Regions from separate parts of the Homo sapiens genome. Here regions 2 and 3 are each linked to region 1. The links come from fine-mapping of genetic effects on gene expression. A gene starts in region 1. Each other region holds a variant in brackets. All regions are shown on one strand. Distances are from middle to middle. Region 1 holds the start of HPGD (15-hydroxyprostaglandin dehydrogenase). Region 2 has its middle 60 kb from the start of HPGD. Region 3 holds the start of MIR4276 (microRNA 4276).

Region 1 (8,647 bases):
TGTCTTTCATTACACTGTCCAATCACATGTCTATTGTTTCTCAAAGCAGCCTTTGACAGAGTTCTAATTGATTTAAACTGTTTCCCCGGGCCTTTGATCATTCATTCTACTTCTATTATTTTACACTATGGATAAAAATTGTGGTTGTTTTTCTACATGACGGAAATATATTCTCAGGTGTCCAGACCAACATATCAAGTCCTTAAAAAAAGTAGGTCAGCATAAGCTTTATTTTGATTGAAATAAATTCATATAATCATTAACAACCACCAGACATATTGGGGAAGACATGGATTAATCAGTTGCCATATAGATAAATTACTATGCTAGTTGTTTACTAAAAACATTTTCAAGATTTCCTAATATGTACCTTTTACACTCACTGTACGGGAATGGAAGAACAACAAACACAAACTGTTTATTTTTCATGGATTTTTTTTTTTTTGAGTCGGAGCCTCGTTCTGTCCCCCAGGCTGGAGTGCAGTGGCCTGATCTCAGCTCACTGCAAGCTCCACCTCCCGGGTTCACGCCATTCTCCTGCCTCAGCCTCCAGAGTAGCTGGGACTACAGGCGCCCACCACCACGCCCGGCTAATTTTTTGTATTTTTAGTAGAGACGGGGTTTCACCGTGTTAGCCAGGATGATCTCTGTCAGGCCTCTGAGCCCAAGCTAAGCCATTATATCCCCTGTGACCTGCACATATACATCCACATGGCCTGAAGTAACTGAAGAATCACAAAAGTAGTGATACTTAAATGGCCTGTTCCTGCCTTAACTGATGACATTCCACCACAAAAGAAGTGAAAATGGCCGGTCCTTGCCTTAACTGATGACATTACCTTGTGAAATTCCATCTCCTGGCTCATCCTGGCTCAAAAAGCTCCACCACTGAGCACCTTGTGACCCCCACTGCTGCCCACCAGCGGGCAACCCCCCTTTTTCCTTTACCTACCCAAATCTTATAAAATAGCCCCACCCCTATTTCCCTTTGCTGACTCTCTTTTCCGACTCAGCCAGCCTGCACCCAGGTGAAATAAACAGCCTTGTTGCTCACACAAAGCCTGTTTGGTGGTCTCTTCACACAGACGCGAGTGAAAGTCTCGATCTCCTGACCTCGTGATCCGCCCGCCTCGGCCTCCCAAACTGCTGGGATTACAAGCGTGAAGCCACTGCACCCGGCCTTTTTTCATGGAATCTTAAAAATGTTTCTTAAAATCTCAAATTGGGTCCAGAAAATGTCCCCCAGTATTTTTTTTTTCTCCTTCCATTCTGAGTATGTTCTAACTCTTCATAACTCCACAGAAACAACCTTCACCTTTTGGAAAATGAGGGTGTTAAATATGTATGTCTAATTGCCGCTTTAATTTTCTTTCCTCATTCTGTTCTCCACCGTATTCCTTATACTCTGCCCTTACCAATGTATAGTATACCATCTTGTTTTCTGACATCCCATTGAATTCCAGGCTCAAGCAACAGACAGTCTACCTCTTGCTGACATTTATATGCTATGGTACTCTTTGTAACTTACCTAAACTCTCTTGGCTGTGATTTGTTCATTTGGAAAATAAGTTATGTTTAGATTATCTCCAAGAAACTTTTCATCTCATATTTTTATAATTTCCACACTGTCTAAACAATTTTAAAAGTTATAGGCAACATTAAATCCTGAAACTGGAAGAATCAATGTCATGTTTCCTTTAGATGCAAGCAAATGCTCATGTCCAGACAACATGTGGATTTCTCATGACCAACATGCCTTCCCGGGTCACTTATGTGTCTGAGTATTTTTCCTCCTCCACAATCATTTATCCTTAAGGAATGAGTTTATAGCCAAGGTATTAATTTTAAATACTGGGAAAAAAACAATTGTAGTTAAATGTCATTTATGAAACTATATAAATTGAGACAGAAATGGCTTTCAGATTGTTTATACTGTTCCTTATGCCATCAGCATGAATGTTGAGATCTGACCTGGCTCTATCCTTGATCCAAAATATCATGTGCAATCAACATAATTGTCCTCTGGTACAATATGTTCCTCTTGCATTGTGTTTACAAATCTGTTCTGCTCATGCTTGTCATCTGTGTTATAGGTCTTTATTAGCATTTTCAGATTTCAGTTATGTAATTTCCTTTACAATTTCTCTTAACTGTTGGTACACCACTTCCTTCTAACACGTCAGTTCATTTTCATTCTCTTACAGAATATTTTAAAATTTTAAAATAAATGTACATTTGATGTCCCTTTAAGAACAGGAGCACTGGAATAAGATTTGCAAAAGTTTTCAGACCCCTTGATTAAAAAGTGCCTTACAATTTACTCAGTCTCTTTGAATAAAACTTTGTGAAATACAAATATTTTACTTTTCTAGTTTTTCTCCAGAATTTTTGTTTCCTGTAAGTTTATTGGGGCACTCTCAAGTTCTCCAATAGATGTACAAAAAAAAAAAAAACAGCTTTATAATCAAAGCTGTTTATTGTGTATGCCAATATTGTCCCTGATACTTCACAAGTAGATTGGTCTATTTTAAGTGAGTAGCCGGAAACAGGAAAGCATTGAGGAAAGGCTGATAGAGATGTTTCTACTACAATTCTAACATTGTATACTTTATTATGATTACTATTATTATTATTTTAAAGTACTGTCTCATTGGGGAAAAAGCCGGAGAAAACATATGGTCAAAAGCATCTAGCACTTCTGTGATGATGCTCCTTGAACTTGTATTCTGATATGTTTAAACGAAAAACACTGCCACATTTGATTGTCATTGGACTCCAGCTTTCTGGGAGAAGTTGTTTGTCAACAGTACCTTACTTAACCTACTTTAATTTTCCAAGTTTTGTCTGCAATTTCAATCATTTAATAATTACTGCAGCAGCACTGTCTTTGAATACATAAAGGAATTTTGATTACATTAATGCTGCCAAATGACTACAATAAAAGGATTTCTCCAGCAGTCTTGCCTTTCTTTCGGTTTTACAGCTATTGGGCTGTCAGAAGGAAACGTATCAGTCCAAACTGTCTTTTGGAGCTTCAAGGTAGCTGCTCTCGAGGAGGCAGCGGAGGCGGCACCCAGGGCCCCCTGGCCGGGCTGCCTTCAGGTTGTTGCTTGTTGAGAGCACGTTCCCAGTTGACAGATTGATTCCCCTGTCTTACCTCTCAGTTGTTGCTGGTCAGCCACATCGCACTGGATGAACAGAGTCTTCTGAGGTTCAAACTGCTCATCCAGGGCAGCTTTACACTGTACACCTGCTTCAAGATTCCAATCCACCAGCGCTACCTATAGACAAGAGGAGAGGAATCGCGGGCCTGCGCAGCTCACGAAATAGACGGACAAACAATAAACACACAAGAGGCTCCCCTCCTGGACCTGAAATTTGGCAATTAGGTTTGGGTTCCCTCCCAGCCACTTCTGAGGTGTGCTCACAGCCTCAGCTTCAGCAAATTTTGGAAGTGGCAAAGTGGGCACGCCGGGCGCGGCCTCCCTGTCTCCGCCAGTGCACCTCGGGCGGCGGGGCGAGTCTCGGAGTGTGTGGGCAGAGAAATTTCCGCGGCTGGGCGCCGGGCTTACCTTGGCGCCCTTAAGCAGCAGCGCCTCTGCAAAGGCTCTGCCTATGCCCTGAGCCGCGCCGGTCACCAGCGCCACTTTGCCGTTCACGTGCATGGTGCAGCCACTGCTGGGGCGGGCGGTGGGCGAGCTCCGCGTCTCCGCGCGGCCGCGGCTTTTATGCCCCCCTGCGCGCGCGCGCGTGCAGCCCGGCGGGGCGCTCCCCTGCCAGTGGGCGGGGAGGAAACTGTCAAGCCAGCGCCCGCCGGGGAACCCACGACTGTGTCACCTGCCCCCTGAGCGTTCTGGAGCGCCAAGCTTCGCGATCTTTGCCTTCCGGACTCGCAGACCGGCTCAAAGCCTCCCCTCAGCCTCTGGCTCCGTGATTGGCAGGCAGCTGACAGAAGAAAAGTTAAAAGGTTATTTCTGAAGAAGAGTTTCCTTCAGTGCCCTAAAGACCAACTGGATAGAAGGAGAGCGGAGCAGAGGCTTGGAAGCTTGGATCCCTCCTCCTGCACTCCCTCCCGGCCCCGACTCCGGAACAAAACAAGCAAACAATAAAGCAAACTTGTTGCTCTTTTGTCTCAAAGTTTTGTGTGAGTTCCCATCTCGTAATCAGTGGGGTTGAGGGTGACGGGGAGCAGAAGTAACTAATATCATTGTGTTTTCTTAGTTACATTTTGGACAAATTTTTACGGATACTGGAGATGAGAAGTGGACTCTGCTCTGTCCTGAAAACCTGGAATCATAACATTTCATGGCTAGGACTAGAGTGTCCTTGGCGCTGTGTTTCTGGTCAGTGTCAATTGTGTGTCATATTGAGATGCCCCCACAAAAACTGTCATCATCAACAGGCGCTCCAGAGCCGCTGGTAGCCTACCAAATTGTTGGCTCAATGGAATGCTTACTTGTTGAAATACACCAACTTTGGAAGCTCTGAGTCAAGTTTGGGACAGAGGTTCCTTGCTCTCCAGGAACTCCAGGGCTAGCTGTATGCGGACTTGCATAAATAACAAGGGCTATTCCACTGACTTTGTCTCTTTTTCTCAGGTTGTCAGCGGCAGGCTGCAATTTTAATTCTGTAAACGTAAGTGGTTGGCTTTTTTTTTTTTTTTTTTTTTTTAATCTTGAGACAAGATCTCGCTCTGTCTGTTTGGCTAGAATGCAGTGGCATAATCCCAGCTCGCTGCAACCTCAATCTCCAGGGCTCAAGCGACCCTCCCACCTTGGACTCCCAAAGAGTGCTAAGATTACAGGCATGAGCCACTATGCCCAGCTGGCATTTATTTTCTTAAAGAAAAAAAAAATCTAAATACTTGGGGGAAATGGGAGTTGAGCAAAAGACTGACACTAACAGCAGAATGAATCATTTTTATATCTTCTTTACCTTCTTTACTGGGAAAGGTGGCTGGCTCAGCAGGGAAGGAGTGTATGAGGAGACTGTGTAAAATGTGTCTTGTCGCGTTGTTGGTAAGCCGCTAAGCAAATGTCTTTAACATTAATTTGAAATTAGGTCTTGACAAAATCTTGAGAAATTAAAACAGGAAAATAGATATTTGTACTCTAGGATGATAATTAAAATTGTAATATGAAGAGTAAATTGAGGGGTCATATTGAAAGGGAATAATAGTAGAAGACAAAAAGAAAACAAGGAACCAAACAAAACTTCAGCTCCTCTAATGGCATGCACAGAACATAGAAGTTTCTGATGAAGGAACTGGCAAAAAAGACAGAAAAGGAACTGCTGGGGTAAAATGGCAACATGCTGGGAGAACACAGGTTTGCAGCTCTTGTGGGAGAAATACTTTCAAGAAGAAAGAAGTAGTTAATAATGCAAAATACTCAGGTGAGCACCAGGGAATAAAGGATGGAGAAATATTTTGAATTTTTCAGGACAATATTTAGTGTGAGTAAATTTAGAAGGCACAAAAACTGAACAGCTGAAATGATCTGTGAGAAGATAGATATTGTCATGGACTGAAGACCAAGGTTACATGGAAAGAGAAATGGACTGGATAATAGTTGAAAAGATTAGACAGCAAACATGTTTTTCTTTTAAGAAAAGATAAGAAGATTGATTGAGGTCAAAGTGCAATGAGTCAAGGATAGTGACAACTGGAAGAACAGGAAGCAGTTTGGCGGTGGCGGATAGGTGAGGCACAAGGACGTCAGCACTGGATTCAGACAAACCGGGTTTGGATCTTGTGTCTGCTACTGACCAGCTGTGTAACCTTGGGCAATTTGCTTCAACTCTGGGTCTCAGATTCCTTATTATAAAGTAAGCTTTTCTAAAAAAAAAAAAAAAGGTGAAAATTAAAATAGGTGAAGCATATTAAACACTATTACAGAGCCTGCCACAAAGTATTAATACATTAATATTAGTCCCAACATATTACTTCTGAAATATTAATGAATAATAAATGTGAGATAGAGAAAAATGTGAAGAATAGGTTTTTTTAGTAGATAGCAAGGACTGAGGTCTAGAGAAAACTTAGTACCCCTTCATCCCTTTCCCTCCTCTCAATTTCCACTGCCACTGTCCAGATTCATATTTTCTCCTATGATAGCAAACAGCAGTTAGCTTCTCATTACCTCCAAATACGCCCCCCACTTTTTTTCGCATTGTGAGATGCTTTTATTACAGTGAATTAAACTGCTTACCAAACAGTGATCTTTGTAAGGAAGGATTTTTTCCCTTTTTAGTTGACATGGAATAACTGTGCATATTTATGTGATCTATATATACAGAGTGATATATATGTACGGAGTGATATATCAATACATGTATACAATGTATAGTGACAAAATCAGGATATTTGATTATTAGCATATTTATTAACTCAAATGTTTATCATTGCTTGTGTTGTGTACATTCAAAATCCTCTCTTCTGGCTTTTAGAACCTATACACTAAATTATTGTTAACCATATTCACCTTACATGTGTTCTAGAAAACACTAGAACTTATCCTCTAATCTAGCTGTTTCTTCGTATCCGTAAACCAGCCTCTCCCTATACACATCTCCCCTTACCCTTCCCAGCCTCTGATAACCACAATTCTACTCTCTACTTCTATAAGGTTTTTTTTTAGCTTTCACATATGACTAAGAACATGCAATATTTATCTTTCTGTACCTGACTTATTTCATTTAATTGCTCCACATTTCTTAAATCCAATTTACCTTCTGCACTTCTCCTAGGAAAATTTCTAAAACTGATCTGATCGTGTTTAGATATTCTCATGTTTAAAATCCTTAAAATATCTAAACTCCTGGGCATCACATCTGAGGTGTTCCATGCCCCATGTCTTTCTTGTGGCCCTTCTTTACATGCCAGGAAGCTGTGTGTCAGTCACAGGTTTAGCATCCCTGATCTAAAAATCTGAAATCCTAATTGCTCCAAAATCTGAGCCTTCCTGGACTGTGATGTAAGCAAGATATAAACTTCTTATCTGTTGAGCCTTTGCATGTTTGTTTCTATTTTCTATCACAGCCTAACCTAATATATCTCCCAATAGAAAAAATCCTCCCAAATGTCCCTGATGACTAAATCATGTAGAACACGGGGCAAATTAAATCTTTTTGGTAGATAGCCATCAGGGCAACCAAATTGGCTAACCTACTAGATCATTTATTGCCATAAAGTCTCCAAATAGACATAAATTACTTACTTATCTAGCAAAACAAAGATAGTGTCATTATACACTGCCTCCCTGGCCCCCACTCCTAAGCAATAATCTTTTTTAAATGAAAGTTTTTGTTAAAAAGTGCTCCAACAATCTGAAACATGACAAGTGGAAAATTCCACATGTAAGTACTAGATACAAACTTGGTTTCATGTACAAAATTATTAAAATGCAAAAGATTATTTTCAGGCTATATGTATAATATGTATGTGAAACAAATAAATTTTATGGTTAGACTTAGGTCTCAGCCCCAAGGTATCTCATTATGTACATGCAAATACAAAATCCCCCCAAAATTCTGAAATCTGAAATACTTCTAGTCCTAAGCATTTTGGATAAGGGACACTCACCTGTATAGCCTATAAATAAGAATGTTCTTACAAAATTATATGGATGATGGTTTATCTCAAATTTAACTTTGTTTTAGCTAAGAATTATGTTTTTAATAACACAAATCACTGTGATGACAGAAATATATAGCTGATGTAATGTCCTGAACATAGAAGCTGAGAAATGCATATAAAAATCAGAGGAGTGGGGAGATGTTGACTGGGTAAGCAGCCCTTTTTTGGTTTTATAATATACCACATATAATGTTCTATAGATATTTTAAATTCAAAATAGACTTTTAATATAAAATATGGGAACATTCTTCTCCAAAAACCCATTATCAATATATTTCTGTTATATAAAAAGATAATCACAACATATGGGAAATCTCACCATCCTATTAAAATTTTCCATCTTCTCTTGAACACATATCTCATATTTATATATACTTTTCTTTGGTCAGCGTGTATTGCGCGTGTACTTTGGGTGGCCCTGTGCTGCGTCAGCTGGAAGGGATCCAGAGAAAAAGACAGAGCCCTCTTTGAAGACATCCAGAGAGAGTAAGCTCCTTATGATCCTGTGATTGGTATTTCCATGGTAGAGATCTGATAGCTGCATAGGAAAACAGTTGAAGAAAGTGGGAGGGCAAAGATACTCAAGAGGAGCGGGTATCAAACGGCAAAGGCCTGAGGGCATGGAGAGTGGCTATGTTTTAACTGACACATGGCTTCCTAGCATGTAGAGAGCTGTATTTGATTTAGTTTTGCAAACGAAGTTCTCTTAAAAACAAATGCAGCGCAATGATGCAAAGTTAAGAGAGGTGATTATTCCTTTAATGCAATTACAAGTGTTGAGTGTTGAACATTTACTCAGAAGCAGCCATCTCTTACTGTCTACACATACAGCCTCTGGAATCAGACCGCTTGGGTTTTAATCCAGCTCTACCATCTACTAGCTCTGTGACTTTTGGATAGTTACTTAATTTATCTGAATCTCAGCTTCCTCATCAGTAAAATGAGGATAATAGCAGCACCTATTTCATAAAGTTGTTGTGAAGACTATACTAAGTTAGATACAAGTCAAGT
Region 2 (8,647 bases), 59 kb after region 1:
TAAAGTGTAATCCCTTGCCCTAATATTCTCTGCACCCAAGTCCTTCCTCAGAGGAATATACTGTCAAACCTTTTAGCTATTTTTAAGACATTTCCTTTTGTATTCATACATGTTATGCTGCTACTATTATTACTTGATTTATCGTGTGTGTGTGTGTGTATGTGTGTGTGTGTATGTAGAGAGAGAGAGACTCCCTCTTGTGATATTAACATTTTAGACCTGTTATATAGACCTTCATGTTAGTTTTCCATTCTCATACAACATTTTGTATGTTCTGGAGTTAATAATTTCTCACTTCATCTGGTGTTTAGTTGTCAACATGCCAATCTCTAATATTTTCTTAAATGTGCCTTCTGATGTGTCAAATACATATCAATAAATGTACTGAAAGTTCAAACACATTGAATTATCTGTTAGTTACATTTCCTTCCCCAACCCCCAACAAGAGTTCCTCCTTCCAAAGCCTTCTGTTGCCCAGTTCAAAACAGAATTGTTTCCAGGAGAGAAAAATAATTCTTAAACCAGGCATACCGTAACTATCTGCAAAGGAAAATGTTAAAAAATTGGACTGGAATAAAACCACAAATTGTTTATCAAAAGATATCATCATGGGCTTGGACAGATAAGAGACATATTGGGAGAAAATATTTGCAGCTTATTTATTTGACAAAGAATAGAAATAAAGAATATTGAAAGTACTTCTAAAAATAAATAAGCAAAAGCTAACACCTCTAACAAGAAAACAGACAAAGACTTGCACAGGAAGATCACAAAAGAGGGCATCTAAATGGTCAAAATGCTTATGGAAAGATGTTCAATCTATTAATCATCAGGGAAATGCAGATGAAAACCACAGTGAGCAATACCACTGCAAATGTGCCAGAATGGAGTTGCCAAATTTAGCAAATAAAAACACAGGACTCCTACATATATTTGAATTTTAGACATAAAATGAATAATTTTTAGCATAAGTATATCCCAAATATTTCTCATGTAAGTAGACATCCTGTATTTTACATCTGGTAACGCTAGCCAGAAAGTATGAGATTGAAATAATGAGCAACACCAAGTATCAGCGGCAATGTGGAACAACTGGAACTTTCAAAGATTACTCGGTGGAGTGACAATTGGTACAACGTCATTTTGCAGAACTATCTGGTAGTGTTGCTTAAAGTGGAACACAGTAAATCTTAGAACTCAGCAATTCCTCTCTAAAGGTGTACTAAAAGTCATGTACAAGGATGCATACTGCAGCACTCTATGCATTACAACTGTTTAAAAAGATGTTCATGTTAAAAAGTTCATTGATAATGTAATCAATCAATAAATTGTGGTGTAATCATATGATAGAAGATCAAATAGCAATAAAGAAGAGAAAACTGCATCTATACTCAATAGATTCATATCACCCTGAAACATAATGTTGACTGAAAAAAGGCAGACACAAAATAGTACATTTCATATGGTTTCATTTGTATAAAGTTTAAAGACAATCAATCCACAGTGTTAGAAATCAAGAAACTGGTTACCAAGAGGAAAATAGTAATTGAGAGGAGGCATAGTGAGAGTTTTGATAATGTTTCATTTCTTGACTTGGATATTGGTTGCGTGGGTGTGTTTGTTTTGGAAAATCATCATGCTGTACACCTTTTTTGTTTGTACACATTTTTGTGTATATTATACATCAATAAACAGTTTGTTTAAACAATTATTAACAAACGGTACTTTGTTTTTAGTTATAGAATATGATTTGTGATTCACATGACAACTGATTTTAACTGGTGAGCCATGGTGACACATTTGAGGTCAACGGCTGTAAAGAGCTCCCATGCCTGTGCTCAGGAACAGAGGGTCTTGGCATTCTTCCTGTCGCAACTGGGGGTGAGAAAACAAAAATGACCTTTCTGGGAAAATACACTGAGATGCATGTGTTAGCTTTGTTGAGAATAACTGTTCAACAGGCTCAGGGCATTTTACTCAAGTCTTTTCTGTCTTACTCACTGTTAAACATTGCCTCTCTGGTAGGCTATCTCTAATATGTATTGTTTGTCCATCTTCCTAGCAGTTGGCTGGGATTTGGCTTTGCTTTAAAAGTTAAATGTTTCCTCTTTGTATGCCATTAGCTTCATGTGTCATGTTTTCTAACCCTTAGGATTATCTGGACCAGTAATCCCTTGCCCGTCCCTTGCCTGGTTCCTGTGCCTTTGGATTCCGTTTTGTCTAGGATGCAGATAAACTTAAAGCATTATATTATAAAGAAGTGACATTAGTGTCTAGCTATATGGCTGAGGGGTTCCTTTATCTCAGAACAGGAAAGTGAGAAGTTACCACTGAGATTCAGCTATACTTATCATTATCACAAACAATAATAATAATTATGTAACTCAAAGTGTCATTGTTCCTGATACAGGGGTTTGGCCCCTTGTCTGGTTGAAGACAAATTCCTGGTCTCCTGTGGGTTCTTCCTAAAATCCCCTAGACTTTACTATTATTTTTAAACTTAGAAATAGACCCCTAATGTTTTATGCTCTCCATGACCCTTTCCTGATCATCTGTAAACTTGAGTACAACTCCTTTGGAACACATGTTCTTTCATGTGGTGGAAAGAATGCTTTGGAGTCCGACAGACTTAGCTTTGTACCCAGGCTGCTCCACTTACTGGCTGTGTGAACTTAAGCATGTTACTCTCTGAGCCTCCATTAACTCTGAGGCTAAAGATGATATTGTTATCTGGAGCCTAGAATTATGGTTAGATTATATGAAGTGTAAGGCACTTACCACTTTTCTGGGTACAAGAAACTTTCAAAAGATACTAGTTTCTTCCTTTCTTCCTTTCTCTTCCATCCCTGCCATTACTTTCACAGCTTACCGCGTCCTTCCTAAATTAGTTGATCAAAGATCCAGAAGTGCATCAATTGTGCGTTCACAACATCACCACCATGTACATATCTGCTTGAACGTTTATTTCCTAGAGGAATATCTGAATGATAATCTTAGAATATCTTCATTGAATCCCATGCAGGAAACATAAGCAAACTGCAGCTGACTAATATGATAAGAAATATTACAGACAGTTAGATCATGTGGCTAATGAGGACACACTGTGGGTGGTGCAGGGAGGAGGAGGAGAGGTCAAGTGAGTGCAAACCCATCCCTAAGGAGGGTAGTGTGAAGTATAATCAGTAACTCCCTTTTTAGCTTTTCTTAGGAACTTCATAACTATACTTTCATTTTCCCCAAATACTCCTCTTACTCCCTATGACAGAAACAAACAGAAAAGTTTTAGGTAAGTAATCAGTTTTATTTGTTGACTGAGTGAAATAAATGAATGCAATAATGAGCAGTACCATGTATAAAGAGTATGAATTTTGGTACAAGACAGCACAGGCCAAAATCCATGATCCACAACTTACTAGCCATGTGATGTTGGAAATTTAATTCAGTTATACTCTGTAAGGCTCAGTTTCCTATCTGTCAAATGGAGATCATATCTGTCTCTCATGATTATGCTAAGAAGATGATGTTTATATGGTCTTTAGTGCATTGCTTAATAATGTTTATTATTAATATTACTATCACTCTATGACTCCTGTTACCGCTACCTTACTTAAATGTCTCATCCAGACGTTTCATGTCTTATGGTCCAACACACTCCTATTCTTGTATATAAAGGGCTCAGAGGCCCCAGGCTTTAATTCCAGAAAGGACACTAGGCCGCTTTTTCAGAGATACATGCTCCCTCCCTCTGCTGCTTCCAAGAGTCGTGATTTGCTGCCCCTTTCCACTAAGAGAGTTGTTGGAATTGCAGCCTCTCTCCTTCTCAAGCTTCAGTGGTTCTGGGATCACCTAAGTCTTCTCCTCTGGAAAACTGGAAAAACATTCTCCTCTTTCCTATTCAACATTCATACTCCTGACAGTGGATTTTTACTGCACTGAAATAATTTATATGCCCTTCAATCTATAGATGGAAATAATAAACACTGGCAGGTCTGTTCAGTTATCCAACATCAAATTCCCCTGGGCTGTGAAAATCAGATGTCTACGTGCTTTATTTTTGTGTAAATAGATTGTAGTTTGTTCCTGAAACTTGTTTTTAATGGCTGAGCCTCATCTTCCATCACATTTATATAGGGTATAAGTTTAATAGCAACTGCGGTATTATACACAAGTATTTTTAAAAACCAGAAGACATTTTCTCAAAATATATGCCTCCCTTGATGAAATCTTCTGTTGCATTTTCCAAAAAAATAAAAAAAAAAAGGGGGCCTTTGGAATAAAATCTGTCTAATTATTTGTAGTATAAGCCTTTTTTCTCTTTTTATTTTTTCCCTTATTTGGAATGCTTTTGTTGTTGTGTACAATGCTTATGCAACCAGTTTATTGCATCAGCAGGATTTCAATAGGCACAAACGTAAAGTAACTTTGTTCCTTCTCCCTAAATGCTCCTTTTGACTTAATGTGCCAAATTGTTCTTTTCTATCCATGGATGAGGATTCCACAGCTTTGTCAGCTACTTTCTGGAATTAATGAGTAGCATCAGTTTCCAGCATAGAAAGAGCAGCCTAATAGAAAATGATCCATATGTGATCAGATTTCTTTCTTTTTCTTAATTTAAGACAGATCTTGCTCTGTTGCCCCGGCTAAAGTGCAGTGGCACGATCACAGCTCATTGCAACCTCCACCCGCCAGGCTCAAGTGATCCTCTTGCCTCAGCCACCCAAGCTGCTGGAATCACAGGCACCCACCACCATGCCCGGCTAATATCTGATCAGATTTAAATCTCTCTTTCCCTACCTCAGTCCTGCTTCTGGAAAATCTGCAGTAAGAAGTAGGTTTTGTTTATGCACTCTTTCTTCATCTGTTTCTTCCACTTCCCCTGTGTTTACTATGCAACCTCTGATTAA[T/C]GGTTGGGTGTGAGAGTGGAGATTGATTAATGGGGAAGTGATACGGGGCACAAAACTTCTTACCTGACTGGCGCAGTTATTATCTCCTACTGGAGCCCTCTGACATGGCAGATTCCAAATGCTGATATTTCTCTTATAATGCAATCCTTGCCTCTAGACTTCTCGACCATGCATCGGGTAGCAGACCCTGCATTTCTCTAATCCAGAGCTCACCAGGCCATCCTCCATTCATTGCTTTCACTTAGCTTGGGGATTTGGTGACAAAGACTCATTCCTTTTTTCCCCAGCTTTATTGAGGTCTGATTGACAACGTGGTATAAATTTGTGGTGTACAATGTGAGGATTAGATAGATAGATTGATGATTAGGTAGATAGATAGACAGACAGATAGATGATAGTGACATGATTACCACAATCAAGATACTTAACACTTCTATCACCTCAGTTACTGTTTGTTTTTTAATGCTGAGACAAAGACTCTCTCTTTTATACAGATTATAGCCAGGCTTCTCTGAGCCCTCTTCTTAACTAGACTTCAGCCTTGGCCTATTAAGACTTAAACAACACTCATGTAGTTTCTAGAAACTCAAAGTCGCATCTGCAAAATAACCTTTGCCCCCCTTAAAGTGCCTGTCTGAGAAAACTCAAGGCTGCCGAAGAAATGTATTATTCGTTCCAGGCAACACCTGAGAAAAGGGCCTCTGTCTCTGAGTCTCTTGGGGAGAACAGGGTCCTATCTTTGATAATTGTCAGTTAGTGGACACAGCTGGTCTAATGACATTTACACTAACTAACCCTCTGTAATTTTTCACTTCCATGACTCTGCTAAGCCTCTAGTTCCCTCTCCTTACTCCCTCACCCTCCCTTTAAAACACTTGCTCATCTCTGTACAAATTGGAGTTCAGTTCACTTTGGACCGTTTTTTCTATTGACATAGTTATTACTGATGAAAATCTGTCCTTACCATTTTAACTAGGGTCTAGCTTTGCTTATCTTTGACCTTGGGCCCGGGGGTAGGAAAGGAAGTCTCCAAGATGGTCTCTATCTCTTGACCTCGTGATTCGCCCGTCTCGGCCTCCCAAAGTGCTGGGATTACAGGCTTGAGCCGCCGCCCCCGGCCGAGATAATTTTTTAAAAGTTTCATGGGGCCGGGCACGGAGGCTCATGCCTGTAATCCCAGCACTTTCGGAGGCTGAGGCGGGTGGATCACGAGGTCAAGAGATAGAGACCATCCTGGCCAACATGGTGAAAGCCCATCTCTACTAGAAATACAAAAACTAGCCGGGCGTGGTGTGGCAGGCTCCTGTAATCCCAGGTACTCAGGAAGCTGAGGCAGGAGAATTGCTTGAACCTGGGAGGCAGAGGTTGCAGTGAACCCAGATGGCGCCACTGCACTCCAGCCTGGTGACAGAGCAAGACTCCGTCTCAAAAAAAAAAAAAAAAAACAAAAAAAAAAACCTCATTAGCAAGTTCCACATAGATGCTGGAACTTCTTTTTAGATTATATGGGTTCTTAACAATCCTTTATTCTATGCAATGGACCCTCAACTGAGAGTAAGACAACAAAATATGTTGTATATTTATCACAAAGCTGTACACCATGAATAGCATAAGAGCTTATAACCAGTTTCTGATGGGTAGCACATTAACCATAATTTGTTTTAAATCTTGATATTATAAAAGGAATATTAAGCAAACTGTGGAGGTCTGAAAGTATTGTTTTTTGATATACCTCATAGTATAGCTCATATTCAACTGATATCACATGATACTATCACATAATGTGATAGTAATGGTATATCAGTTGAATATGAGCTATACTATTTTCTCTTTAAAGTTTGAGGATCTTCCTTTTCTATTAATTTTGCCATGCTTATGTGGGTATCCTATTTTTTTTATGATGGGATGAAAATTATTAAGCCAAGGCTTCTGTGCTAGCTGTTATTATCAATGATATCAAAACACTCATTTTTGAACAGTATAAACATATTTCAAAAGCAATCTGTAATAACTCTTAAAATAGATATGATCATTAAAATGGTAAATGTCTACTGTAGCAAACTGAAAAATATAAACATATATGAACAGATTGAAAACACCAATAATTGGTGAAAAATCATGGGTAACTTATTTTAAATTTTGATGTATATTTTCTAGTTTCTACATCCACAGTGCATATTTTTTTCTACTAATGAGATAATATTGTGTATTTGCAGTTTATCCTACTTTAAAATTTAGTATATATCAGAATTAATCAATAGTCTTTGAGAACATGGCAAATATGTTTTAATGGCTGAATAAAAGTCTATCATATAGTTACAACATCACATATTTTATTTTGTCTCTACTATTGCGTATTTACATATTGCCCATTTTATTATAATAAGTATATCAATAAATTTCTTTATATATAAATCAATGTATAAAGCTCCTTTTATTAGAATGTAAATCTGCACTGACTGAATCAAAGATCAAAGTTTGAACATTTTGCTCTTCTTGAAAGAAATTTACAGTTTATTCCCTAGATTCTATTAGTAATGTATGAGTGCCACTATTATCAGACGCTACTAGATTGAATATTGCTTTCTAAATCTCAATGCTTTTACATGTAAAGATGGTATTTTATTATTTGCACTTTTGTTTCTCTGATAATCATGCCTTTTAAGTGGCTTTCCATTTTCATGAATGTCTAAGCCAATTGAAATATTCAATCTGAATATGCCTTACTCAAAATCAGATATTTAATGAGAATCTTTTCTAGTACTGAAAAAATAATGTCTTTTTCACCATGATGGTGGACTGGTAACTCTGTGTCTGAAAATCTGGGCCAAAACCATGTCAATATGAGTTATGTTCTAGAACTTTGTGGCCTTGACTTTTCATTTATTTTGTGTGTAGCAGGAAACCAAACTACTTTCTAAATGCAATTCTGACCCTATTGTCAGCCCAGCCTACATCAGTTCTATGTAAAGTCAACACTTGCTTTTCTTGTGAGTGTCATCCTAATGGCCCTTTTCACCCTAGTGACACAACACTCCTGCCTCCTTATAGCAGCAGCTGAATCCAGTTTGCAGCTTCCCCAACACTTGCTAGACTAGCTCCATCACATCTCATCCGACAGATTTTGGCACCAGGCAGCAGGCAGCCTGTCAGCAAAAGTTGAGGTGTCATAATAAAAAAAAAAAAAAAGTTGGGGAGTCAGGCCCAAGGAGCCCTTCTCCAAGCTCCCATGCACCACCATCAGTTGAGCTGCAAGCACTTCTAACTCAGAAGTCCGAACTTAACCTTCATGAGGTTGCTCCAAGTTTCTAGGTTTTAATAACATCAGCCTCTTCTTTGTTTCCCCAGCCCTAATTAGCTATTTCCTGTAATTGCTACTCATCATGGTCCCTTTCAATTCCCCTTTTATCCTTTTGTGACCTTGTTAATAAATATATATGTAGTTTAAAATTCTGTATATTATTTTCTCTTTAAATAACTTATGAGATTTCTCTCTCTTGACTGAACCCTGAGTGATACACCTAGATAAAGGCAATAACCAAAATTATGGACATATTTTCTTTATTGAAAAGTATAATGCCTATTATGGGAAGGGCCAGACTTTTATTTTTTATTTTTTATTTATTTTTATTTTTTTATTGATCATTCTTGGGTGTTTCTCGCAGAGGGGGATTTGGCAGGGTCATAGGACAATAGTGGAGGGAAGGTCAGCAGATAAACAAGTGAACAAAGGTCTCTGGTTT
Region 3 (8,647 bases), 100 kb before region 1:
TTGTTGAATTGATCCCTTTACCATTATGTAATGCCTTCTTTGTCTCTTTTGATCTTTGTTGGTTTCAAGTCTGCTTTATCAGAGACTAGGATTGCAACCCCTGCCTTTTTTTTGTTTTCCATTTGCTTGGTAGATCTTCCTGAATCCCTTTTTTTTGAGCATATGTGTGTCTCTGCATGTGAGATGGGTCTCCTGAATACAGCACACTGACGGGTCTTGACTATTTATCCAATTTGCCAGTGTGTGTCTTTTAACTGGAGCATTTAGCCCATTTACATTTAAGGTTCATATTGTTATATGTGAATTTGATCCTGTCATTATGACGTTGGCTGGTTATTTTGCTCATTAGTTGATGCAGTTTCTTCCTAGCATTGATGTCTTTACAATTTGTCATATTTTTGCAGTGGCTGGTACTGGTTGTTCCTTTCCATGTTTAACGCTTCCTTCAGGAGCTCTTGTAGGGCAGGCCTGGTGGTGCCAAAATCTCTCAGCATTTGCGTGTCTGTAAAGTATTTTATTTCTCTTTCACTTATGAAGCTTAGTTTGGCTGGATATGAAATTCTGGTTTGAAAATTCTTTTCTCTAAGAATGTTGAATATTGGCCCCCACCCTCTTCTGGCTTGTAGAGTTTCTGCTGAGAGACCTGCTGTTAGTCTGATGGGCTTCCTTTTGTGGGTAACCCGACCTTTCTTTCTGGCTGCCCTTAACATTTTTTCCTTCATTTCAAATTTGGTGAATCTGACAATTATGTGTCTTGGAGTTGCTCTTCTCGAGGAGTAACTTTGTGGCGTTCTCTGTATTTCCTGAATCTGAATGTTTGCCTGCCTTGCTAGGTTGGGGAAGTTCTCCTGGATAATATCCTGCAGAGTGTTTTCCAACTTGGTTCCATTCTCTCCATCACTTTCAGGTACACCAATCGGATGTAGATTTGGTCTTTTCACATAGTCCGATATTTCTTGGAGGCTTTATTCATTTCTTTTTACTCCTTTTTCTCTAAACTTCTCTTCTCACTTCACTGCATTCATTTGATCTTCAATCACTGATACCCTTTCTTCCAGTTGATCAAATTGGCTACTGACGCTTGTGTATTCATCACGTAGTTCTCGTGCCGTGGTTTTCAGCTCCATCAGGTCATTTAAGGACTTCTCTACACTGGTTATTCTAGTTAGCCATTTGTCTAATCTTTTTTCAAGGTTTTTAGCTTCTTTGTGATGGGTTTGAACTTCCTCCTTTAGCTGGGAGAAGTTTGATCGTCTGAAGCCTTCTTCTCTCAACTCGTCAAAGTCATTCTCCGTCCAGCTTTGTTCCATTGCTGGCGAGGAGCTGCGTTCCTTTGGAGTGGGAGAGGTGCTCTGATTTTTAGAATTTTCAGCTTTTCTGCTCTGTTTTTTCCCCATCTTTGTGTTTTATCTACCTTTGGTCTTTGATGATGGTGACATACAGATGGGGTTTTGGTGTCACATCCTTTCTGTTTGTTAGTTTTCCTTCTAACAGTCAGGACCCTCAGCTGCAGGTCTGTTGGAGTTTGCTGGAGGTCCACTCGAGACCCTGTTTGCCTGGGTATCAGCAGTGGAGGCTGCAGAACAGCGAATATTGCTGAACAGCAGATGTTGCTGCTTGATCGTTCCTCTGGAAGCTTCATCTCAGAGGGGTACCCAGCTGTGTGAGGTGTCAGTCTGCCCCTACTGGGGGTGCTTCCCAGTTAGGCTACTCGGGGGTCAGGGACCCACTTGAGGAGGCAGTCTGCTCATTCTCAGATCTCAAACTCCGTGCTGGGAGAACCACTACTCTCTTCAAAGCTGTCAGACAAGGACATTTAAGTCTGCAGAGGTTTCTGCTGCCTTTTGTTCGGCTATGCCCTGCTCCCAGAGGTGGAGTCTACAGGGGCAGGCAGGCCTCCTTGAGCTGCGGTGGGCTCCACCCAGTTTGAGCTTCCCAGCCGCTTTGTTTACCTACTCAAGCCTCAGCAATGGTGGGCACTCCTCCCCCAGCCTCGCTGCCACCTTGCAGTTCGATCTCAGACTGCTGTGCTAGCAATGAGCGAGGCTCCATGGGCATGGGACCCTCCCAGCCAGGCGCAGGATATAATCTCTTGGTGTTCCATTTGCTAAGACCATTGGAAAAGTGCAGTATTAGGGTAGGAGTGACCCAATTTTCCAGGTGCCATCTGTCACCCCTTCCCTTGGCTAGGAAAGGGAATTCCCTGACCCCTTACGCTTCCCGGGTGAGGTGATGCCTCGCCCTGCTTTGGCTCATGCTCAGTGGGCTCTACCCACTGTCCTGCCCCCACTGTCTGACGAGCCCCAGTGAGATGAACCCGGTACCTCAGTTGGAAATGCAGAAATCACCTGTCTTCTGTGTTGCTCACACTGGGAGCTGTAAACTGGAGCTGTTCCTATTCGGCCATCTTGGAACCACCCTTTAAAGGTTGCTGAATTTTATGTAATGAAAATATCATTAGAATATCAGATGTAACTCATAATTTAGTACTTTTTGTAAGCATAGCAAAAAGTATAAAATAAATATCAATTTATTTGAATATTTAAATTTGTTTCTCCTATTGATATTGTTGATTTGCTCGTCCACTTGAAAGAGGCAGGAATCATCACTGTAGTATTCAAACCATGAGTGTTATAGTGGTTTACAAGAATTAGGAATGAAAGGAAAAGAAAATATGTACAAAACTTAGAGAAAATGGTAGGAGACATACCCTTGGATGGACACCATCTTAATATTTGGAATGTTACTGTAATCCTACAATTCATTTAAAAAATATTTTACATAGATCTCGTGCAAGCTTGAAAGTAAGAAAAGTGCAGATTTTTTAAAAATTTCTATTATCAGAAAGAGTTCTTTAAGTTAAAATAAGAACAAAAACACATGGAAATATGAAGTGAAGAAATTTGGTAAAAATTTAGCATACATAAAATCTAGGTAATAATTTGAACATAACCCATTAGATTATTGTTAATTTATTTTCCAAGATAACATTAAATTACTGCATCTCTGATTACTAAGATTTGGTTAATTTATTTTTTATTTTCATGCTATTTTCAAAGACATGAAAAGAATCTACAAATTTTAGCCATTAGTACTATCTTTCTATTTAAGAGATGCTAACTGATAACAAAATAAGGTCTGATTGGCATATTTCTGCATATTTTACGTCATATTTCAGTAACTGTGCTAAAGAATGATGCAATATCATAAAAGATAGTAGCAAGATTGAAAAAAGCTAAATTATATCATAAATCACAAATGAGGGTGAGTTGTCATTTCTATAACTACTAAGAAATATCCCGATCTGGAAAAGCTAAAGATTTAGCTATTGCTAAAGATTTTGGGTAAGAAAAATTTACTGTATTGTCATTGACCTAATGAGGATCACTGATTCATTAAAAAGTAAGTAAACATCTCTGGAACCCAGATTTTTATCAACCATGACCTTTGGCCTAAATTTGTGAATGCATTCAATTCACTATGTTGCTTTTGGCAAGCGAAGACACAATAGCTAAATTCTGACACGTTATGCATAAAGAGAGCCTTTCTTTCTTTTTCTTTTTTGACCACATCTTCTAAACTTAACAAAGTCTCTCTCTATATGTAGTCTTATATTATATATATATAATATAAAGTCTATATACTATATATAACATAGTCTTTTATATAGAATATAAAGTCTATATATTATGCATATGTAATTTTTTTTTTTGAGAGAGGGTCTCACTCTTGTCACCCATGCTAGAGTGCAGTGGTGTGATATCGGCTCACTGCAACCTCCACCTCCCTGGCTCAAGCAATCCTCCCACCTCAGACTCCAGAGTAGCTGGGACCACAGACACACGCCACCATGCCTGGCTAATTTTTGTATTTTTTGCAGAAATGGGCTTTCCCAGTGTTGCCCAAGCTAGTCTCAAGCTGGACTCGAACTCCTGAGCTCAAGTTATCCACCTGCCTTGGCCTCCCAAACGCTGGGGGATTACAGGCGTGAGCCACTGTGCCTGGCCCCAGATATATATTTTTAAATCTCACTCCTTCAAGGAACTTTACTCAGTTTACATATTGCGAACATCTGTCCTTGGTGGTATTATTCTCTGCTTTCTCCCTCCTATCCTTTTCCTGCATAAATAGTATTGCTCTTCACATAGTATGTAGATTAGATACTATCTTTTTTTAAGGCAGTTTACTTATTTGAGAGAAAGAGACATGCTATATTCATATAATATATCTGATGTATAAAACTCATAAATAAGGTTTGCCTTACTTTAAGACTTAGATTTATTGGGGGAACCAGATATCCTAATGACTGTCAAGTTTTAAATTTTATGATTCCTCTCTCTGTCTTAAATTCCAAATCCACATTTCCCTGAATCTACTTAACTATATGATTATGTCTCACAAGCAGTTCACACTCAATGCATAGCTATATGTATTATCTTGCTTCCTATATACAAGTGAGTACAATCATTATAATACAACTTTCTAAATGTCTACTTTAACCTATTTTACAAATCTGAAAAATCATAATAATAACACCTATCTTCTAAATTTGTGAGAATTATATGAACTAATATGTGTACAGTGCTTTGTAGAGACCAGCGATTTTCAGAATTATTTTTATTGCCCCCTTTAGCAACGTGTTCTTGGTTACTATATTTATATTTCCTTCCTGTCTCTCAAATTTTTTTCCATCTCTCTTCTTCTTCCTGCCACTTCCTTGGTTATGTTTTCTCATCTACATTATTTCACAAACCACCTACCTTATCTTTTGGCCTGCAAACCAGACCATACCCTGTATGCTCAGCGTATCCTCTACGCTGCGGGAAGAGTGACAGCAAGAAAGTTAAATGCTGATTTTATCACCATGATTCTTCAAAATCCCTCAACT[C/G]TTTGCAAAAATAAAAGATAACACCCATTGTCGGTAAGCATGCTAGAAAATGGCATCTCACATGCCATCATAGGCATGAAAATTGACATTTTTTCAGAAAGCGACTTGCCTCTATACCAAACCCTTTCAATAGTACTTCTTGCTTGACCCAGCAGTGCCACTTACATGTATAATCCTGAACTAAAGGAGAAAATGTGCTCTGGATTTCTGGCAAAGCTTCCTTTAAGAGCAAAACCCTTTTTCAACAAGTGGTCATACGCTAGGAGAAAAACAATAGGAAATAATAATAATAAAAAAGAGAACTACCTTTACTGGTGCCAAGAGTAGAAAACAACAATCACATACCATAAAATCAAGGAAATATCATCCAAATCTAGGGAAAATTTAATTATCCAGAAGGCACCAAGACTGAGAAAAGAATGCATCATTGTGGAAAATAAGTGGAGAACATTTTGGTGACAGTTGGGAGAAGTATCGTTGGTCCCAGCTGACTTGGGGGACAGTCTCATTTGCTGCCCATGGCCTCAGATCAGTATCACTGCAAGGCTGTTAGAAGCACGGCTGTGGAATAAAGCATGTAGTCAAGCCACACAATTCTTTGCTGACAGAATTTGAAGTAGGTTTAATTTTCTTCTCTATGTTTTCCCCATTTTCAAATTTCCAAAGATGAAAAATTAATTTGACAGCAAAAAAACAAAAAACAATAAAAATAATGGTGGCTTCTTAATTCCTTATTTTAATGGGCAAAGTTATTCCCTCTCTGTTTATACTCCAGATATTCCACATGTGCTAAAACATTTAGAAATCTTCTAAAATACGATATGTTCTTTTTCCCTTCCATATCTTTGCAACTACTTTCCCCTGCAACCGTCTAGGGAGTTCCTTGTAATTATATGTCACTCAACTGAAAATTTACCTTCTTTATGAAATATTCTGTGATGTCTGTGTGCATGATTACATATTTCCACTTTTGTGTTCCCACTGTACTCTGTCAGCATCTAAGTTGTGGTACTCACCACACCAGTAAATTTCTGTGTACATTTCTCTCTCCTGTACCATGAGAGCTCTAGGACTGCAGGAATTGTTATTTTAAACTTTGTATGGAATTTAGTAAATGCTTATTGAATCAACTCATAAGAAAATTGGATGCTAATATTTTACTTTCTTCAGTTTCCTCATTGGGTTTAGTGGAGAAATTTCTCACAATATTGCCTGAAGGACAAGTTTGAGTACAGGTACATTATTCTTACATATTTTTTCTTTTTATATTTGTCATTATATGTCCATTTCCAGTGAATAAGTGTTTAATTACATTTGTTCATTCCATATTCACATTCCATTTACTGTTCAGAATGTGGAGATCATGTTTCTTGTGTTTGACTTGCTTCACACATGGGAGAAGTTGCATGCATGTGAATTCACTTAAATTATTTCACAAAGCAGAAGGGCACGGTGGCTCATGCCTGTAATCCCAGCACTTTGGGAGGCTGAGGTGGGTGGAACACTGGAGGTCAGGAGTTTGAGACCAGCCTGGCCAACATGGTAAAACCCTGTCTCTACTAAAAATACAAAAATTAGCCAGCATCGTGGCACAGGAGCTGCCTGTAGCCCCAGCTACTCAGGAGGCTGAAACAGGAGAATCGCTTGAACCCAGGAGGCAGAGGTTGCAGTGGGCTGAGATCGTGCCACTGCACTCCAGCCTGGGGGACAGAGCAAGACCATGTCTCAAAAAAAAAAAAAAAAAAAATTCACAAAGTGATGACTGCATTTTCATTCCATCAAAAATAAAAATTATTAGAGTTACTAATTGTATTATTTATCAGATGTGGAAGCAAAAGGATTTTCAATTCACTGTGCAGAGGAGGTATGCTTATAGAGACTCAAGAAAACAATCTGATTGTTTTAATTTTTCTCTAAGCTCGCCTGCCAAAAAAAGAATTCTGATCTGGCTCTTAGATTTTAGTAGATTAAATTTATGGAAAACAGGAATATGGTCCTATGCAAAATGTTCCGGTAAAAGTTTTTATGCTGATATTGAGTGAATTTTAAGCTTATTTAGTCTAAAGTAAAACACTAAGTTTTTTCCAGAACCTCAACTAAACCCAAATATTTGGAGAAAAAAAAGGAAGCAAAAACAAATGTTCAATTGTATGACAGAAGTTAATTTCAAAAATGAATGATGAAAGATGTTGACTTTTTTCTGTTATAACAACATATAACATATAATATTATAGCAGTAATATTATAATGACATAATTGTTTTCATTTCTTTTAACAAAATCATTAAATTGGTCCTTTCCACGCTTTACTACAAACTCTTTCAATTGTCTTCCATTTCTTTGACAAGCTAGAAGGGTCTAGATGTTTCTCATGTGGTGAGCCCTGTCAAACACTTTTAAGTTTGCATTTTTTTCCAGATAAATGTAACAATACCCATAAATCACACTTATTTGGATTCTTATCTAATATTGCATTGCAATAATTGGAAATAAGGCAAAAGCTTTTTGGAAGGTATGCAACACTTTACTCTCAAACCTCAGATAAAATCTAAAACCTGTGTGAGACTAAACTGAAAAGAGGAAGAGGGAAAGAAGGAAACATATTCAATGGAGGACACTGTGCTAAAATGTAATTTTACATTTCCATTGAATCCTATTTTATCAAAACCTGCATTTTTAGTTTTAATTTTGATTCATAGTGTGATTTGGGAATCATTGAAATGACACATGTTAAAGATTACAATACAAATAACACAATTTGCACTTCCAGTTTGCAGAATTTCCGATTTGGCAGTTTGCCAGCTCTTTGAATCTAAGAGAAACAGGGAAACAAAATTTCTGCAGAAGTGTTACTTCTTTCCAAAACATGATCCAGACATTCATAGAACCATTGAATTCGCTATTGCTATTCTGACTACCGGAGAAATACAACCTTTTTGCGTGTGTGTGTGTGTGTGTGTATATGTGTGTGTGTCATGTGACATTTGGCATTGGGGCTGGTGGAGGAAGATAAAACAAAACTGCATGTCTTGCCTGTTTTTCTGTTGAGTCTGACATCTGAGGTGTAAATTCAACAAAAATTAGACATCTCCTTAGATAAGATGACTCTAAATAAATATTCTATTTATAGTTCTCTGCTGACATAAATATAGCTTGCTTAATCATGCACGTATCCTGGAATATGTGTAAAGCCAATTTTGCTAAAGTGATTAATTTGTAGACTGTGTATTTTTTCTTATGTGTTCCTTGAGTCAATGAGTTAAATAATGGGATATGCTGTGGGCATGTCACAGTCTGACTCAGTGACTCATGTGCTGGCAGTGGCCACGTAAATAGAGCTACTGTGTCTGAAAGCAATGGGTAGCTAGAAACCTTTTTGACAGCTCATATGAAAACTTAAAGAATTTCAAAACAGGCTGGGTGTGGTGGCTCATGCCTGCAATCCCAGTACTTTGGGAGGCTGGGGTGGGAGGATCATTTGAGCCCAGAATCTTGAGACCACCCTGGGCAGCCTCGCAAGACCCTATCTCTGCATGTAAAAACAACAACAAAAAATTATAATAGTAATAAAAAAGAAGTTCAAAACGAAAAATATTTGCAAGGATTTTGTTTCTGGGTTTTTTGATTTTGTTATTAGATTTTTAATTAAAATAGAATAAAAACCTGAACTTCAAAATCAAGATCTGCTTATTTGGAAATTTTGTCTGTTACTCAAGTCTGTCCTTTTAATTTTTCAGAATAAATTAATATTATCTATTTC

The links.
Region 2: its variant is fine-mapped to the expression of HPGD in whole blood (TOPMed, PIP above 0.99).
Region 3: its variant is fine-mapped to the expression of HPGD in whole blood (INTERVAL, PIP above 0.99). The same link has a PIP of 0.9 or more in blood mononuclear cells.

The regions. Positions count from the first base shown.
Region 1 is chr4:174,518,787-174,527,433 of GRCh38, forward strand. It overlaps HPGD (15-hydroxyprostaglandin dehydrogenase), which reads right to left and starts at 3,702. Exons shown (of 7, transcript NM_000860.6): 1 at 3,573-3,702; 2 at 3,158-3,281. The coding sequence starts at 3,665. LOC105377548 (a long non-coding RNA gene) reads left to right here and starts at 3,827. Exons shown (of 7, transcript XR_007058492.1): 1 at 3,827-4,343; 2 at 4,599-4,635; 3 at 8,026-8,122. RefSeq lists an enhancer at 512-1,041.
Region 2 is chr4:174,577,715-174,586,361 of GRCh38, forward strand. No RefSeq gene overlaps it. Among named protein-coding and RNA genes, the nearest start is that of HPGD, 60 kb to the left of the region's middle. RefSeq lists an enhancer at 8,449-8,647. The variant T/C (reference allele first, on the strand shown) is at 4,905.
Region 3 is chr4:174,415,620-174,424,266 of GRCh38, forward strand. It overlaps MIR4276 (microRNA 4276), which reads left to right and starts at 8,176; the gene lies at 8,176-8,245. The variant C/G (reference allele first, on the strand shown) is at 4,889.